2 separate regions of the Homo sapiens genome follow, and region 1 is linked to region 2. Evidence: fine-mapped expression QTL. Tissue or cell type: thyroid. Region 2 holds a variant in brackets; the other region holds the start of a gene. All regions are shown on one strand. Distances are from middle to middle. Region 1 holds the start of PRDM6-AS1 (PRDM6 antisense RNA 1). Region 2 overlaps PPIC-AS1 (PPIC antisense RNA 1).

What was found.
Region 1: it holds the start of PRDM6-AS1, and the variant in region 2 is fine-mapped to the expression of PRDM6-AS1 in thyroid (GTEx, PIP 0.99).

The regions. Positions count from the first base shown.
Region 1 is chr5:123,089,140-123,091,639 of GRCh38, reverse strand. PRDM6-AS1 (PRDM6 antisense RNA 1) reads left to right here and starts at 1,324. Exons shown (of 2, transcript NR_146771.1): 1 at 1,324-1,568. It overlaps PRDM6 (PR/SET domain 6), which reads right to left and starts at 2,399. Exons shown (of 8, transcript NM_001136239.4): 1 at 2,121-2,399; 2 at 1,034-1,640. The coding sequence starts at 1,625.
Region 2 is chr5:123,037,498-123,039,997 of GRCh38, reverse strand. The region is part of intron 1 of PPIC-AS1 (PPIC antisense RNA 1); the gene reads right to left. Among named protein-coding and RNA genes, the nearest start is that of PPIC, 2.0 kb to the right of the region's middle. The variant G/A (reference allele first, on the strand shown) is at 1,234.

The DNA of each region.
Region 1 (2,500 bases), 52 kb before region 2:
AACACAGTATAGGTGTAAACACAGTATAACTTCTGAAATTATCAAAAAGAAGCAGGTATAAAGCAGTACATATTGCTTGATCTTCATTTAGAGTTTTGCTTCAAAACCGCCAAATGGAACTGTACTTGTGATAAGCGTTTCAAATTGTGAATATAGAAACCGAAGCTACAGGAATTCTGATGTTTAGTTAGGCATTTGCTATTAACTTGGAGGAAGAGGGGAGTAAGCGTCTTTTACTAAATTACAGTCACCCTAATTTCTAAAAATAAATACATAAACCAACATGGGTTATGAATGTTTGCGGGGTCAAAGGTGCGCGGATAAAGCGGGATCAGCGGAATCGGAGGAGAACAGAAATTTTCTTCTCAGTAAGTAGCAGTCATTTTTTTTTCTTTTCCTTCTTTTTAAATGAATAGTAGATCTAAGAATACTGCCTGCCTTCAAGGAGAAACGGACTCAGTTTCATCTAAAATTCCTACTCCAGTGAGGCCTGGCCAGCGAACAGCTCCCGCCGGTTCCCCCACAACCCCGCGGCCCGAAAATGACCCCTCCAGAGGTGGGGTGGAGAGTAGCAAAAACAAGCCCTGGTCTGCGTGCTCCCCAGAGACGCTGAGGGTCCCTCCCTCGTCCCGGCTAAGGCCAGGCAGGGCCTGACCCAGACACCCCCTGTCACACGCTGCCAGTACCCGCCTGGCCCCGGGCACTGTCCGGCGGGAGGGCAGAGGTCTGTTAGGCCGGGTCCACGGTAGACTCCGGCCCCAAACACTTGGGACTGTGAAGCAGGTGAGGAGAGGGAGGGAGAGGGAACCCCAAAGTGCCACCGGCCGTCCCATCCGTTCTCTTTCCTTCTCCAACGCCAGAAAACTTTTGTCACAGAGATCGGGGAGGCGCGGGCCAGCGGCCAGGACCAGGTGCTCCCCACCCACCCGGCCCCGTGTCACTCCTATCCGACCCGCCTCCCTGACAGGCACCCGCGCCCGCCGGCGCCGGCGCCGGCGCCCCGGGAGAGAGCGCGCGGGCTGCGGCTACGTACGGTTGTTGGGGTCGCTGGTGTGCTGGTTGAGCGGGATGATCTCCATGCGCTGCTGGCCATACAGGTAATAGTCCAGCTCCTCTGCGCTGCAGCGGAAGCGCGGGGCGCCGCGACCCTCCCCGCCGCCGCCGCCACCACCACCGCACTTGACGGGCCCGGGGCCGGAGGTGGCGCCGAGGCACAGTTCCTTGGGGGGCAGCGGCTCGGCGGCGACGGCAGCGGCGGCTAGAGGCGCGAACACCGGCAGCTGCGACACCGGCAGGGCCGAGAGACCAGCCAGCGCGGCGGCAGCGGCCGCAGCAGCGCAGGAGGAGGCGGAGGAGGCGGAGGTGGAAGAGGAAGCCGGCGTGGACGAGGCGGAGGAGAGAGAGGCGGGCCGCGGGCGCAGGCTGTCCGGCGGAGGCTCAGCGCGCTCCGGGGGCGGGGGCGGCGGCGGCGGCTGAAGAGGCTGCGGCGCGCTCAGGAGACCCGCGGCGCCGCTGCCCTTGAGCGGGCCTGCGCCTCCGTGAGGGAAGAGTTGCTGCCAGTGCTGCAGGTAGGCTGGGTCCACTTTGAGGAAGGCCGAACCGCCGGGGTCTCCGGGCTTCAGCATGTCCGGCGCCTCGAACTGGGGGCAGAGGGCAGGGAAGAGGGGGCGCGTGAGCTGGGCGAAAGGGGCCGGGAAGAGGGCCACTGGGACCCTGGAGAAAGTGCCCGAGCCGGTGGTTCAGCCGGCGGCCGCCCGGTTCCGCGGCTCCCTCTTCCCAACTCCGCTTGGGCGCAAAGTTTACTCCGAAGCTGCGGCGCCGCACAGAGGGAGCTGTGTGCACCCTGCTCTGCCTCCCCGATCGCAGCGTCCAGCTCCCATCCAGCAATGCTGGGGCCCGACAGGAGGGCGCTGCCCCGTAGAACTCGGCTGCAGGACGCAGCCCCCGCCCTCAGCCAGCGCCCGGAGCCGACCCGAGCCGGCGTGGCGCAGCGCCCGAGCCGCGTTGGCCTCAGGCGCCAGGAGGCAGAACAGTCTCGCCGCCCGCCCCCAACCTAGGACCACCAACCTTCCTATCTACCAAGCCCTAGACTCTTAAGTCCCAGACCAGCCTCACCTTACCTGAAAACTCGGTGCTGCCGGTGGGTGCGTGCGGGTGTCTCGGTGAGCGTGCGGGTGCGCGAGAGTGTGCGCCCTGCGTGCGCTACATGCCCCTGAGCAGCGCGGGAGGAGAGTCCTAGAGATTGTGCCGCCCGGAAACCTCCCGACCTGCAAGCGAGAAAATTGGGAGGCCCGCGGAGGGCGCGAGAGTGCGGACGGACCTGGGCGCCCGACTCAACCGCCGTGGGCTGCTGCGCTTGGCCGCTGCCGCGTCCTGGCTCCTTGGTTCCACGCTCTGGCAGCTTCCCGGCTGGACACGTGGGTTTTACGACAGCACAAAATAGAGTGAGTGTGTGTGTGTGTGTGTGTGTGTGTGTGTGTGTGTGTGTGTGTGTGTGTGT
Region 2 (2,500 bases):
GGAATTTTCTGAATCTGAAAAAAGATATCCCCCAAAAGGACCTTCAGCAAATATCATGCCTAATGGTGAAACACTGAAGCTTTCCCTCTGACACTGGGACCAAGACAAGGTGTATGAGCCCCCTAGGGCTGCTGTAACAAAGTGCCACAAACTGGGTGACTTCAAACAAGAGAAATGCATTGTCTCACAGTTCTGGAAACTAGCAGCTGAGATCAAGGTGTTGGCAAGGCCATGCTGTCTTTGAAGGCTCTAGGGGCAAATCCTTCCTTGCCTCTTCCTAGCTTCTGGGGGTTGCCAGCAATCTTTGGCATCCCTTGTCTTGTAGATACAGCACTCCAATCTCTGCCTCCATCCTCATATGGTGTTCTCTGTGCGTGTGTCTGTGTCTGTTCCCTTTTTATGAGGACACAAGTCATATTAGAGTAGGGCAAACCCTACTCCAGTATGATTTCATCTTAACTTGATTACGTCTGCAAAGGCAGTCCAAATAAGGTCACATTCACAGATACCAAGGTTTAGGACTTCAATATATCTTTTTGGAGGATAATTCAGTCTACAATACAAGGACTCCCACTGTTGCCACTTCCTTTTGTACTGCAGATCCCAGCCAGTGTAAAAAGGCCAAAAAAGAAATACAAAATGTAAAGATTAGAAAAGAAGAAATAAAACTGTCATTATTCATGGATGACATAATTGTCTATGGAGAAAATCCTAAACAATTCACAGATAAATTATTAGAATATGTTTAACAAGGTTGGTATATACAAAGTTAATATATAAATTAATTTTACTACAATACATGACAATAGCATAAAAAAACACTTAGAAATCAAACTAATAAAATACGTGTAAGACCTCTGGGCAGAAAGCTATAAAATCTTATTGAGAGAAACCAAAGAAGACTTAAATATGCTATGTTCATGAATTAGAAGACTCAATATTGTAAATTTGCCAAGTCTTAAATGGTCTACAGATGCAGTGCAATCCCCATCAAAATCTCAGTGTGTGGAAACTGACAGGCTGATTCTCAAGTTATATGGACATGGAAAAGCTCAAGAACAGCCAAGAATTTGTTGAACAAAGCTAAGAGGGTATGTATTACTGAATATGAAGAGTTATTATAAAGCTATTTTAATGAAGACAATGTAGTATTGGCACAAAGACAGACAAATAGGCCAATGGGACAGATAGGGTGCCCACAAACACACCTATGCATACATGGGCACTTGCTCT[G/A]TGACAGAAGAACAGTATGGAGCGGTGAGTTAAAGGGGAGAATTTTCAATAAACTGTACTGAAATAAATGAATATTCTTATGAAAAAAATGAATTTGCTTCCTACTTTGTATTAGCCACCAAAATAGTTATATGCAAAAATATAGATGAATTTCACAAAAATTTAAGCAAAAAGAAATACATACGGTAATACCCTATTCAAATAAAATTAAAACAAAATTAAACTATAGTACAAGAAAAGTCAGGATTGCAGTTAATTTGGGCAGAAAAAAGTGTTTGTAACTGGCAGAGGGTATAAGAGGAGTTTCTAGGGAGCTGGGAAAGATTTCATTTCTTTGCCTAGAGGGTGAGATGGTGGTAGCATAAAAAGTAGTTGGACACATTCATTCATTCAACAAATAGTTATTGAGAAATCACTATATATCAGGCATTGCACTAGATCTGGGTCATCAAAGGGGAATAAATATAGGCCTGATCCCTGCCCTGGCCCTGCTTACTTCTGATAGCAGACAGACAAAAACAATTAATGAACACAGATAAATATATACAATCACCTCACAGTCACCTCGTAGGGTAAGTGCTCTGAGAGATACCCTTGTCTTGCTACACAAGGGGGACTCTTTCCTTATTGGGGGTGGGGATGAAGAGGAAAGCCATTAGGTCTTTCACTGGACTGAATCATAAAAATAGCTCAGAATTGCATTTCTCCTTTTTCTCACCCCAAAGAAGTAGTGGTTACTCCTTTTATCTCTAATGGTTCCAATGTCATTTTAGATCTACACTTAGGTACACCTAGGAATCCCATCTGACATTTAGAAATTCCATCTCTTAATCCGAGGAAAATCTTGGCTTGAAAGTAATGGCACCAGCCCCTTAAAATGGCACCTATGTGCGAATACCACTAATTTTTAGTTAATTTTAGGGCTGTTACTCTAAAACAAAAAAGTTCTTTTGAAATTCTAATTCAAAAAGCAATGAGTTTTAAAATAACCCTTTCCATGTTATAAAATACTTATATGCTCATTGTAGAACATCTGGGAAATCAGAAAACTGTAAAAAAAATTTTTTTAAACCCTCAAAAATCCATAAGTCTATCAATAGCTATCAATTCTATCTATAGCTACTGTAAACGTTGTGGTACATCTCTTTCAATATTTAAGTGCCTTGATATATTTATTTTCACGGTTGAGATCAGAATTTGTGGTTTTGCAACCCGAATTTTCCATTTAAAAATATAATAAGAACTTACTTCCCCAGTCATTAATCTT